Linked DNA regions of Homo sapiens. Each later gene encodes a partner of the first gene's protein in a complex. Each region holds a gene or a part of one and is shown on either strand. Other genes may lie near its edges. A codon is read from its position in the direction of its gene.

Region 1 (7,029 bases):
CCTTGAATTCTTTATCTTTTCCCTCCCATCCCCTTAAGGACTTTTCACATTCTTTTATTTCATTTTTTCTCACTTTCAATCTTTTCTAAAAAATCAGTTCTTTTCCTTGTTATTTATATATGTATCAGACTCTTAACTACTGAACAAAACTTTTTCTAATCTCAGGTCCCCCACCACTAATTTATCTATCATTTGTGAAATCATTTGAGTAGCCACTATCTTTTCAAAGACTATTTTTAAAACCCTGTACTGGTGCCTCAAGATGAGTAAGATATAGTCTTTATCAAAAAGGCTTACAGTCTAGTAGAAGAGGCAATACCTAGATTTGGGTCTGCCATTACCAACTATAGCAAGTGTTTTCTCCTTTCTAGCCTCTTTTTTATTATCTGCAAAATGTACATCATGGTTTAAAATGACTATAATTCTGTGCCTTATAAACAAATAATTTGATACAGTATTTAATAGATAGCCATAACGGAACAATATAATTACCTTGGAAATCAATAGAAAGGTCACTTTTTGCTGTCACTGAGTGGAAAAGTGGCAATTTGAATTGAATCCACAAAATTCCAGAAAAATATGAGTGAAGCCGTGGAGAATAGAAGCATGCAGTGTAGATATAAGACAAGGCATGCAACCTCAGGTGACTACAAAATGGTTTCCATCTGAGAGTCTTGGTATTAGATACGATTATTAAGGCAAGTACATAGAGAGACGAAGGACAAAATACATAGGATTGATTACTAAGGCAAGTACATAGAGACGAAGGATGAAACGGCATAGGGTTGGAGGGGGACAGATGACTGGACAATGCCAACTTTTAAGCAGGAGGTAGAGAAAGAAGATTCAGTGAGGAAGCCAGAGGAGGCTCAGAGTGGTATAGAGGAAAATCACAATATGTTTCAAAAAGTGGGGAATAATCTATCTGGTTAAATGCTTCAGAAGTCAAGGATCATGAGGACTGGTTGGAGCGCCATCATTGATAATGTAAGAAGTCATTGGTGAATTTTGAACATGAGAGGAAGTCAGTTTGCATTGAGTTAAAAATAAGGTATTGAGAAAAGAAAGCTATGAGGAGATTACTGTTTTACATGGCTTGTGATTAAATGGGCCAATTTCAGCAGCTGGCATAACGAGCAAATCTCATTGTTTCTTGCTTTCAAGGCTAGAAGCAATATTTCTGGATTTTTATTTGAGCCAGTTTCATTGTATCCCATTGCAGAGATGTTTCATTGTTAGATAATTATTGTCAGCTGAAAATATACTTACAGAATTTATTCTTACTGACCTATAAACTATTATGGAGTTCCTCACAAGCCGCTAGTGGTGAACAAAAGTTGGAGGAATTTCAGTGTGTGCTGGAGTTAATTTACAAAATAAGTCTTAAGTACATCTAAGTTTTAAGTAACCCTTTTACCTGCAAAATAGTGACTTGTAGACAGGCGACTTTGCAAGGTGTAGGAATACCCATCTTTTTAAAAAAAAAATTCTATTTTTTATCACCCAGGCTGGAGTGCAGCTGTGCAATCATAGTTCACTGCAGCCTTGACCTTCTGGGCTTGATTGATTCTCTCACCTCAGCCTCCTGAGTAGCTGCGACTACAGGCACTCACCATCATGCCCAGCTAAGTTTTTTTGTGTGTGGATTTTTAGTAGAGACGAGGTTTTGGCATGTTGCTCAGACTGGCCTTGAACTTCTGGGTTCCAGTGATCCACCTGCCTTGACCTCCCAAAGTGCTGGGTTTACAGACGTGAATCACCACACCCGGCCGGAATACCCATCTTTTAAGTTCAAGAGTCAAGGATATTTGTCGCTTGTCTGGCTATTATAACTTTTTATTATAAATTAAATTGTAATCTCCATCTCCTCTTTACATATCAAGTACATAATGAGAACAAGTAAAAGGCTCAGAAGAAAGAACAGATAATCCAAAAAATTGCCCTTTTGTTTGTCCCAAAGCTTTAATAACTATAGTAATTAACAACAACCATTTATTCAGCACTTATTATATGCTAAACACTAGGATTGGAATTTTGTTGTCCCTACAGTTTTCACTATAAGGAGATTGAAACCTTGACAGCCAAAGTGGTGCGGGCAGGGTTAAAATTAAAACCTTCTAATTTTTTACTAATCAAGTTCTTAATCAGCTCAGATTAGTGTTCCCCATGGGCATTAGATCCAACCCCTGGGCAGACACAGATGGAAGAAATTTGATATAGTCAAATGATAGATATTTATTAGTAAAGGGGATTTGGTTTTAAGTAGCAGAAACCCACATACATTAACTTAAACAATAAAAGGGGAACTTACTGGAAGGATAATGCTATATTTTAAGGAAGATTTGTGCAACACATCTTAGGAAGCAACAAAAAATAGGGAAGCAGACTGGACATGGTGACTCACGTTTTTAATCTGCACTTTGGGAGGCCTAGACTGGAGGATTGCTTGAGGCCAGGAGTTCAAGACCAGTCCAGGCAACATAGCGAGACCCCCGTCTCTATAAAATAAATAAATAAATATGAAAAAAATAGGGAAGTTCTAGAAATTAAAAAAAAACAAATTTTCTCATCTTCCTTTCTTTTTTAACACCATTACGTTGCTTTTCTCTTGAACTTTGTTTCAAATTCTTGAGATAAATTTTCCTGTATACCGAAAATCATTGGCTTCCAGTGGATCGGATGTCTGTTCTTTGTTCCTTTCCACTGGGCAGGGCACAGGGTGCCATTGTATATTAAGGTTATAGATGATCATTTCTTCATGCCACAGAGCAATTCTCAGGGTAGGACAAAATTTGGGGAAATGGTGTGATGAATGGAACAATATTTAAAAATAAAACTGTCCTAGAGAATCCACTCTATATGATGCTAAATATCAACTTTTTTGGCCTTTTTTTGCACTTAATATTGGCATAAAGGAATGGTCAAGAGCATACAGGAAGAGATAATTTATGATGGGCTCTTTAACTCCTTTCAATATACAGTATGAGAAATGTATAATAGGAAAATTTTGCTAGCCAGGGAGAGAGTTTCCTCTCCTAGTTTCCCAGAAGTAATTATTTTCCTGAGATCTGAAGGAAGGGTAGGGTCAACTAGGCAACTAGGAAAGAACATTCCACATAAGAGAGTAGACCCTATGGCAAGAAGGGATAGGACATTGTTGAGGAACTGCAAAGGCCAGTCAGTCTATATATAAAACACAGATAGCAAGAGAAACTGTCACATTGTCACATAATATATCTCCATAGCACCTTGTTTCTTTTCATATAGACACTTACCATAGTCACTAGTATTTTAACCTTTTATTTATGCAATTATTTAACTCATGTGTAGCTCTTCTTCTTGAGGTCAAATTTCATGTAGTTTCTGCTCACCATTGTATTCCCACTATCCAAACTCAATGCCTAGGACTTAATAGATGAGGCTAAACACATAAGTGGGCTTCAAATGGTACAGGACTTATGGGCTCCGATTTCATTTTTCATTCTTAAGTCTATCTTCAGAAATTTTGCCATCTATGGAGAAAATGAAGCATATTTCATATTTTTCTTCATTTAGCTATATTAGGCAGGTGGGTGTGTAGCAGTCCACCAGTGTGTGTGTGTGTGTGTGTGTGTGTGCATTTTAGTGTATGTGTAGTGGTGGTGGCTGAATGAATAAGAAGAGCCTAGCCCAATTGTTGACACATGGAGCAATGTTGGTGGGAATGTAAATTAGTATAATATCTATGGAAAACAGTATGGAGATTTCTCAAAGAATTAAAAATAGAACTACAATTTGATCCAACAATCCCACTACTGGGTATCTCCCCAAAAGAAAATAAATGAATAGGACATCTGCACTCATGTTTATCACAACACTAGTGTGTGTGTGTATAATATACCACAGAATATTACAGAGCCATAAAAAAGAATGAAATCATGTCTTTTTCAGCAACATGAATGCAGCTGGAGACCATCATCCTAAGTGAAATAACTCAAAAATAGAAAGAAATATTATACCTTCTCACTCATAATTAACTACAAAATGTGTACTTATGGATGTAGAGAGTAAAATGATGAACCACAGAGACTTGGAAGGGAGAGGGAGTAGACAGGTGGATGATGAAAAATTACTTAATAGGTACAATGTATGTTATTCAGGTGATGGATACACTAAAACTCTGATTTGACCACCACACAACCTATCCACATAATAAAATCATGCTTGTACCCCATTAATTTATACAAATACAAAAATAATAATCTAAAAATAATGAATTTTAGAAATAATGTTTACCAATTATGGTTGTGTCCTCTTTTGTGTTATAGGGGAGCTGAAGAAGCCCAGAACAACAATTCCCAAATGCATATTTACTGCGTTACCTCTGGTGACTGTAGTTTATTTACTGGTTAACATTTCCTATCTGACTGTTCTGACACCCAGGGAAATTCTCTCTTCAGGTTTGTATGCAAATGGCTAAAGCAATAAATAAAGTGCTGGTCCTTTCAACGTAACTATCATTTCACCAGTCAGAACCACTGTTTACTGTTCATTATTCTATATATGGAATCAACTTATAATTTTCTAAAATAACAGAGGGCCAAAGGGAATGATTTGTCTTAGAAAGGAGATTCATCTTTAAGCATGGTTATGCCTTTTCTAATAATATGGAAAGATGTATATAATGTTGATGTATGGTGTAGATCAGATTCAAAATATTAGTATTCCTTTCATGATCTCATCTCACTAGAGTGACACTGAGTAATCACTGTTTACATCGATTTTAAAACTTTCAAAATGTTTGAGTCTCAATGTTTTTCTAGGTGTCACAAAAAATGATCAATTCGAAGTGTAGAATATTGGCAGTTAAAAGAGTAGATGCTAATGTTCAATTGATGCATATAATTAATATTGATGTTAAAATAATACGGTTTACCATGAACAACTCTAAAATTTATGGTGGCAAAGTGTCCTGAACATATTGGAAATCTGACCAAAAAATAGCTATCTTAGAGACCAAATTGTAGAATAAAGAATAAAAGAATGAGAAAATTTTAAATAAATATACATTGAAAAATGAGTAACAGATCAACGAATAAAAAGAAATTTGGAAAGAAATGAGAAACAGGGAAAGTGGAAGACTAGTAATTTCCTCAAGCCAGCATTAAACGACCTCACAAGATAAACCTATCACCCAGTACCTTTAGGACTAATGTCTTTTGAGCAGCTATTATTGGTTTGGTGAATCTTTGAGGCATGGACGCAAACCTAAGGGAGATTTTGATATAAAATTCTGGTAAACTTTGCCTCAATTCTTATGTTACTGCCCTGCAGGGTGATGCCATATGGTATCAGTGCTGATTCATAATGGTCTAGCTATCTTAGGGACCTATAAACTAGATGGATTCAAGCTTCTGAGTGTCTGTGGGAAAAAACCAAATGCAAATTCAGATCAGAACAAGCAGTGATTTATTAACTACCTTGATTATGTAAAGAATAAATTTACAAAGTTAATTGTGGGTGTGGTTGGGGCTGCTGGTCAGCTAGCACCATTGTTACGGTTCATTGAAGCTGGCGTCTGTTATGACTACCAGTGCTCCGTCCATACGGGTTGTTAAAAAATCATGAATATCTCCTTCGGTGTAATAATGATTATAGCAATTTTGTAGATGGCACAATGATTTTGGCATGTGTGGAAGACTCGTGAAGTGTTTTGACCATCATCACTTTTAATTTGGCTACAATGCTTACTTTTTTAGGCATATCATCTTTAGACTTTTTGTTTAAATTCTGGGGACTGTGGTGGGGTGGGGGGAGTGGGGAGGGATAGCACTGGGAGATATACCTAATGCTAGATGACGAGTTAGTGGGTGCAGCGCACCAGCATGGCACACGTATACATATGTAACTAACCTGCACAATGTGCACATGTACCCTAAAACTTAAAGTATAATAAAAAAAAATTCTAAATTAATCTTTTTAAGTCCAAATATCTGCGTGTTTATTGTACAAGAAATTTAAATTAAGAAAATAATCAGTCATACATGAAAAATGTATGTATAGGTATAGTAATCATAGCTTTATGTATGATAGCAAAAAATTAAAAACCATAAAAATATCCAATAAGCTTGAAACAAATAAAAAATTTATGGGAAATCTATATAATAGAACATTCTGTGATTTGTAAAAGATGATATTGTTGATGGATACTTGAAGAAAAGGGGCAATGTTAAATCAATAATGAGGAAAAAGTCAGGATGTATATAATGATATAAAACAGTAAATAAGTAGTTAACAATGGTGATCAATGGGAATGATATTGTATGTGATTTTTACTTTATTGTTTGCACTGAATATTCCAAATTTTCTTTAAAGTGCAAAATTTGTGTAATAAGGGGGAAAGTTATAAGCAAAAGAAATAGTTTTTTTTTTTTTTTTTGAAACAGAGTCTTGCTCTGTTGCCTAGGCTGGAGTGCAGTGGCACAATCTTGCTCACTGCAACCTCCACTTCCCAGGTTCAAGCGCTTCTTGTGCCTCAGCCTTTTGAGTAGCTGGGATTACAGGCATGGGTCACCACACCTGGCTAATTTTTGTATTTTTAGTAGAGATAGGGTTTTGTCATGTTGGCCAGGCTGGTCTGACCTCAACTGATTCTCCCTCTTGGCCTCTCAAAGTGCTGGGGTTACAGACGTGAGCCACTAGGCCCAAATATAGTTTCTTAAATTAAGAAATTTTAACGATTAAGGGATGCATTTTTTTCAATCAAACAAGTATATGTAAAAAATATGAAAAGTTTCCATATGAATATAGAGCATCCATGATGTGGCAGGAATTGGATACTACATTTTATTTAAGGAACATTGAAAGAATTACACCAGGCTGCGATAAATATTAGATTCTAATATTTGTGGTTTAGATAGAAAAAGAAAGAATGGTATTAATCATGTAATGTTTTTGTCTGTGTCCGTGTCAGAGCTCTGACTTGTTTCTTCACCTATTTTTCTCTTAGGAAATAAAATAGCCTTTATTATGAATAAGTTTCACAACTGA
Region 2 (7,029 bases), on another chromosome or scaffold:
GGCATGGTAAAAGCTTTAATTTGTTAAATGTAAGTATTAAAACTATACAATTTTTAAATAACAGCTTTGTCGAGATATAATTCACATACCATAAAACTTTTTTTTTTTTTTTTTTTTTTGAGACGGAGTTTTGCTCGTTACCCAGGCTGGGGTGCAGTGGTGTGATCCCGGCTCACTTCAACCTCTGCCTCCTGGGTTCAAGTAATTCTCCTGCCTCAGCCTTTAGAGTAGCTGGGATTACAGGTGCCCACCACCACACCCAGCTAATTTTTTGTATTTTTAGTAGGGACACGGGGTTTCATCATGTTGGCCAGGCTGGTCTCGAACTCCTGACCTCAGGTGATCCACCCATCTTGGCCTCCCAAAGTGCTGGGATTACAGGTGTGAGCCACTGAGCCCAGCCAAAATTTACCGTTATTAAAGTATATAATTAAGTGGATTTTCGGTATATTCACAGAATTATGCAACCATCACCAATGTCTCATTCCAGAGCATTTTCATCACCCCCAAAATAAACCACATCTCCACTAGCAATAACTGCGCATGGCCCCTCCCTCTCTGTCCTCAGTCTCTGGCAACCACTCACCTACTTTCCGTGTCTATGGATTTGCCTATTCAGGGCATTTCATATAAATGGAGCTATACGATATGGGACTTTTGTGTCTAGCTTCTTTCACTTAACATAGTGTTTTCAAGGTTTATCCATGTTGTAGTATGTCTCAGTACATCGTTCCTTTTTATGGCTGAATAGTAACTTCCATAAAGCCCATTTTGTTTATCTGATCATGAATTGACAGAGATTTGTTTTCACTTTTGGACTATTACGAATAGTGATGCTATGGACATTTGTGTACAAGTTTTTATAAAAACATGTTTTCAATTCTCTCTGATATATATCCAGGAGTGGAATTGCTCCACTGGGCATATGGTAAGTCTACATTTAACTATTTGAGGAACTGCCAAACTGTTTTCCAAAGTAGTTACTCCATTTTACATTCCCACCAGCAATGTTACGAGGGTTCCAATTTTTCCACATCTCATCAAGCCTTGTGATGGTCTGCCTTTCTGATGATGGCCTTCCTACTGAGTGTCAAGTTGTTATCTCATTGCATTTTTTTTTTTTTTTTTGCATTTCCCTGATGGCTAATTTTGTTGAGGGTATTTTCATGTGCTTATTGGACATCTGCATGTCTTATTTGGAGTAATGTCTGTTCAGATTCTTTGCCTATAATTAAATTTGGTTGTCTTTTTATTGTTTAGTTGTAAGAATTCCTGATATATACTGGATAGGTGATTTGCAAGTATTTTCTCCCATTCTGTGGGCTTTCATGTCACTTTCTTGATAGTGTCCCTTGAAAAGCACAGAAGTTTTTAATTTTTATGAAGTCCAGTTGTTTTGTTGTTGTTGTTACTTGTACTTTTAGTGTTATATTAGAAACCATTGCCTGGTCTATTTATTCCAGCACCACATGCTAAAAAGACTATTCTTTGCTTCATTGGATTATCATGGAATCTTTGTTGAAAAATCAACTGATTGTAGGCTGGGCGTGGTGGCTCACATCTGAAATCCCAGCACTTTGGGAGGCTGAGGTGGGAGTTGAGCCCAGGAGTTCAAGTTTGCCTTGAGCCATGATTACACTCCAGGGTGAACTCCAGCCTGGGTGACAGAGTGAGACCCCGTCTCTAAATGTAAAACAAAACAAAAAAAAGAAAATCAGTTGATTAGATTTCCAGACTCTCAGTTCTGTTCATCTATATGTCTGTCTCTATGCCTGAACACCCTGAGTTGATTAGTGTAGCTTAGTAAGTTTTGACATAGAGAAGTATGGGTCCTCCAACTTTGTTATTTTTCAAGATTGTTTTAGCTGTTCTGGGTACCTTATATTTCCATGTGAATTTTAGGATTTCCATATAAATTTTAGAATAGCCAACTGGGATTTTGATAGGGATTGCATTGAATCTGTTTATCATTTTTGGCAATCATGCCATCTTGTCTTCTAATCCATGAAGACAGATGTATCTTATTTAGGTCTTTAATTTCTTTTGATGATGTTTTGTATTTTTCATTGTACAAGTCTTAGACTTTTTGTTCAGTTTATTCCTAAGTATTTTGTTCTTTTGATATTATTGTAAACTGAAGTGTTTGCTTAATTTCATTATTGGATTCTTCATTATTAGTGTATAGAAATACAATAGATTTGTGTATATTGATCTTGTATCCTAAAACATTGCTGAACTTGTTTTTCGTTTCTAATAGTTTATTGTGAATTCCTGAAGAATTTTTTTTTTTTTAATTTGAGGCAGAGTCTTGCTCTGTTGCCCAGGCTGGAGTGCAGTGGTGTGATCTCAGCTCATTGCAAGCTCCGCCTCCCGGGTTCATGCCATTCTCCTGTATCAGCCTCCCAAATAGCTGGGACTACAGGTGCCTGCCACCATGCCTGGCTAACTTCTTGTATTTTTAGTAGAGACGGGGTTTCACCGTGTTAGCCAAGATGGCCTCGGTCTCCTGACCTCATGATCTGCCTGCCTCAGCCTCCCAAAGTGCTGGGATTACAGGCGTGAGCTACTGTGCCTGGCCTTCTGAGGAATTTTTTGTTTTAAAATTATTGCAAAATATACATAAAACAATTTTAAACATTCAAAAGTGTGTAATTCAATGCATTAAATACATTCAAAATGTTGTACAACCATCACCATTATCAGTTTCTAGAACTTTTATCATCCCAAACAGAAAATCTGTACCCACTAAACAATAATTCCTCACTTCCACCACTAACCCCTGATATCCTCCATTCTATTTTCAGCCTCTATAAATTTGCCTATTCTAGGTACCTCATATAAGTGGAATCATAACAATATTTGTCCTTTTGTGTCTGCCTCATTTCACTTAGCTTAATGTTTTCAACTTTCCTTCATACATACAATAGCATGTATGAGATCTTACTCCTTCTTATGACTGAATAACATTCCATGGTACCTATGTAACACGTTATCTATTCATCTGTTGGTGACGTTTGTGGTTTTGCCTCCTTTTGGCTGTTGGAATAATGTTACAAACCAATGGTGTACAAGTATCTGTTTAAGCCCCAGATTTCAATTCTTTTGGATCTATACCATGGAGTGGAATTGCTGGATCACATAATACTTCTTTTGTTTTGTTTTTTGAGATGGAGTCTCACTGTATCACCCAGGCTAGAGTGCAGTGGTATGATCTCGGCTCACTGCAACCTCTGCCTCTGGGTTCAAGCAATTCTTATGCCTTAGCCTCCTGTGTAGCTTGGATTACAGGCATGTGCCAACATGACTGGCTAATTTTTGTATTTTTAGTAGAAATGGGGTTTTACCATGTTGGCCAGGCTGGTCTGGAACTCCTGGCCTCAAGTGATTTGCTGCCTTGGCCTCCCAAAGTGCTGGGATTACAGGCATAAGCCACTGTGCCCAGGCTTTTTTTTTGAGACAGGGTCTCACTTTGTCATCACCTAGGCTGGAGCACTGTGGTGTGAACATGGCTCACTGCAGCCTTGACCTCCTGGGCTCAAGCAATCCTCCTGCATTAGCTCCCACAAAGTAGCTGGGACTATAGGTGCATACCACCATACCTGGATAATTTTTGTATTTTTTGTGGAGATGGGGTTTTGCCATGTTGTCCAAGCTGGTCTTGAACTCCTGAGCTCAAGTGATCTTCCCACCTTGGCCCTTAAAGTGTTAGGATTACAGGTGTGAGCCACTGTGCCCAGCCTTGGATCATATAGTACTTCTGTGATTTTGAGGAACTACCAAACTGTTTTCCATAGTGACTTCTCCGTTTTACATTCCCATCAGCCATGTACGAAGGTTCCAATTTCTTTTCATCCTCACCAACACTTTTCTGTCTTGATTTAAAAAATTATACTCATCATAGTACAAATGAAGTGGTATCTCATTTTTTCATTATTGAATAACAGTTTTGCTGGATATAGAAATCTTGGTTTACAGTTCTTTCTTTCATCACTTTGAATATGTCATCCCATTGCCCTCTGGCCTTCATGGTTTCTGATAAGAAGTCAGTTGCTAATCTTATTGAGACTCCTTACATGTGATGTACCAATTTTCTTTGCTCCTTTAAAGATTCTGTGTCTTTTAACGGTTTGACTGATATGTCTAAGTGTGGGTTTTTAAAAATTTTGTCCTACTTGGAGTTCATTGAGGTTCTTAGATACACAATTTTTAAAAAAATCAAATTTGGGAAGTTGTTGGCTATTTTTTTTTTAAATATTGTTTCTGACCATTTCTCTTCCTTCTCTCCTTTTGAGACTCCCATTATGCATATGTTGGTATGCATGATAGTATCCCACAGGTCTCTGAGAGTCTGGTTTTTTTTTTTGAGACAGGGTTTTGCTCTGTTGCCCAGGCTGGAGTGCAGTGGTGTAAACATGGCTCACTGCAACCTTGATGTCCTGTGCTCAATTTTCCCATCTCAGCTTCTTGAGTAGCTGAGACTACAGGTGCATGCCACCATGCCTGGCTAAATTTTTAATTTTTTTGTAGACATGGGGTCTCACCATGTTGCCCAGGCTGGTTTAGAACTCCTGAGCTCAAGCATCTTCCTGCCTTGGCATCCCAAAGCACTGGGATTACAGGTGGGAGCCACAGTGCCTGGCCTCATTCTTCTTTTTCTTTCTGGTTCTCAGGCCAGATACTCTCAATTGAGTCTTCAAGTTTTCTGATTCCTTTGCTAGTTCAAATTTGTCAAGTCCCTCTAGTAAACGTCTCACTTTAGCTATTGTACTTTTTAACTCTAACAGTTTTATTTTTTCATAATTTCTCTTATCTATTTGATAACTGTTCATATACTTTAAATTCTTCAGGCACAGGTTTTTTCTTTGAATATCAAAATATTAGCTGGTTTAAAATCTTTGTCTAGTAAGTCCAATGTTTGGTCTTCCTAAGCAATATTTGCTATTGACTCCCCCCACCATTATATGAGCCATATTTTCCTGTTTTCTTTGACTGTTTTGTATATTTGTTGTTGTTGTTAAAAACCGGACATTTTAAGTAGTATGACAATTCTGGAAATCACATTCTTCCTTTCCCAGTGTTTGTTGTGCTCTATGTCCAGAAGTCTTGAGAAATCAAAGGGTTTCTTGTCAGAAGATCTCATGACAGTGAAAAGAATAAAAGGATGGAGGCAAAAATTGACCTAATTTTCTGGCCATAAACATAGAAAAATACTTCACAATGGTCTATAAAAACGTAATTATAAAGATCATTTTCATACAGCTAAGGAAGTTAAAAAAAAAAAAACCCAACCTCCTATTTCTTGAATTGTAGCAATTAAGTCTTGTCCTAAGACTCAAGTTCGAACGCTAGTTCTGTCTTAGACTACTACTTGAATAAATGATGTAATTTCTCAGAGCTTGTTTCCTCATTTGTAAAACGGAGATAGTACTTGCTAGCACTGTTGTGTGAAGGAGGGAAATATAGGTGTGAAAGTACTTTTTAAAAAGTAAAGTGCCATGCTCAGCGTATGCACATGAGGGTTTGAGTTGTGGGTTATGGAGAGAGTTGTCAGGTGATTTAAATAAATTCTTATTTAAACAAACTTATTTAAATAAGGGCTAGAATATACCTAGAACGTTTAACATGGAAATATATTTACAAATAGAAAACACTTTATAAAATTTCATCTTGGAGTATGTAAATTCTTTCTAAAAGTTGATTTACTTTAAAAATTTTGTCTGAATAATTCATAAGTCAAAACAATTTTTTAAAAGAGGACACATCAGAAGTCTCTCATGCCTGTCCCTTTCACCTGGGTTCCCTTGTCTTGCTCTCTGCCACAGTTTTGCTTCCTTTCCTGTCAATATTCTCTTATCCAAATATGAGAAAATATGACTATGTACCCTCTGAGTTTTATTTGCAATATCATTGTACAATAAATTCTTATCACCCTTTTCTTGCTCATCAGTGGCCAAGATAATAAATTGGTCAGTTACACAGCAAATAGCAGGCCTAGGACTCAAGTCCAGGCTTGCTAGTACCAAGGTACCACATCTACTTTGTTTTGCTACGTTGTGAACTTTCTGTGAAATAGGGTAAATCTTTCAGAAAACTGTGTATACAGCTGTGTTCTTAAAAATATCTGCCTTTCAGATTGGTGGACCAGACAGTTCACGGCTGACTTCGCGTTTGGGGAATCAGTATGTCAACGTGATGAACATGCTTCTTTTCACACTCCCTGGAACTCCTATAACTTACTATGGAGAAGAAATTGGAATGGGAAATATTGTAGCCGCAAATCTCAATGAAAGCTATGATATTGTAAGTTGAATACAACTTGACTATTCATCACAGCTATAAAACCAAGTATTCATTTTTTATTTTTTGCCAAATCAGAGAACTTACTATCTCTCTATTGCATTGCTGAAAATCATGGTTACTTTGCTTTTCTTTCTTACTGTTAGTAAGAATTCTCAGCTTTCTTGGTGGTCTGAGAGCTTATTTTAAAAATGCTTTGGAGCCATACAACTAAAAGTTTCTTGGGTAGGGCATTTTAAAGATGTTTTCTACCTGATAGGCACATTAAAATTTATTTATTTATTTTGCCAGGAATACTGTGTTGAGAGGCACACTAAAATTGGAGAACCGGTGGTTTAGTTTAGAATATGACTCATTTCCCTCTACTTGAAATGTGGAGTTAGGAACACTTATTTCTTTAGTTCTCATTTGTCCTGTTTGGTCTTGGGTGACCACAGCACAAGGACCCTTTTCTTTTCTGTTATCAGGTGCAGTGCACAGCCTCAGAGTTAAGCAGTTTTTATTTTGTAGCTACAGATTTCAGAATTGTGTTGCTGGGTAGACGACTATCTTGCAACTTTAATTGCCTAGTTAGCTTTCAACTATATGAGATCCAATTTCCCTAATATTTGATTAAGGTGAAGCTTTTTTCCCTCTATCAGCTCCTACATTTGTGTGTGTGCACTCATGAGCAATAATCAGGCTGAATAAACGAGTAGGACAGAATTCATACTCACTTGTACATGGCAGTGT

The links. The genes of interacting proteins can lie anywhere in the genome.
Region 2: the proteins of SLC7A13 (region 1) and SLC3A1 are in contact, whole or in part, in a cryo-EM structure (PDB 8WK6), measured with the Homo sapiens proteins. Residues at the interface, in NP_620172.2 of Homo sapiens: Ile120, Phe123, Phe124, Pro125, Ser126, Cys127, Leu132, Pro133, Cys136, Leu137, Leu139, Ala140, Met141, Trp143, Ile147, Arg151, Lys187, Thr265 (codon at 4,415), Arg267 (codon at 4,421), Asp281, Arg282, Glu450, Cys454, Tyr455, Gln457, Leu458, Leu459, Phe460, Asn461, Ile462; in NP_000332.2 of Homo sapiens: Pro64, Tyr65, Ala66, Gly67, Met68, Pro69, Lys70, Leu73, Phe76, Ser77, Arg81, Tyr82, Pro85, Arg86, Leu89, Phe90, Thr93, Ser96, Val97, Leu100, Ile101, Thr104, Ile107, Ile108, Ser111, Cys114, Leu115, Glu194, Asn195, Asp202.

What each region holds. Positions count from the first base shown.
Region 1 is NC_000008.11:86,220,382-86,227,410, reverse strand, and holds part of SLC7A13 (solute carrier family 7 member 13), read left to right. Parts: intron 1-4,307; coding exon 4,308-4,439; intron 4,440-7,029. UniProt on the Homo sapiens protein: Associates with SLC3A1/rBAT to form a functional heterodimeric complex that transports anionic and neutral amino acids across the apical plasma membrane of renal epithelium.
Region 2 is NC_000002.12:44,306,454-44,313,482, forward strand, and holds part of SLC3A1 (amino acid transporter heavy chain SLC3A1), read left to right. Parts: intron 1-6,132; coding exon 6,133-6,300; intron 6,301-7,029. UniProt on the Homo sapiens protein: Acts as a chaperone that facilitates biogenesis and trafficking of functional transporter heteromers to the plasma membrane.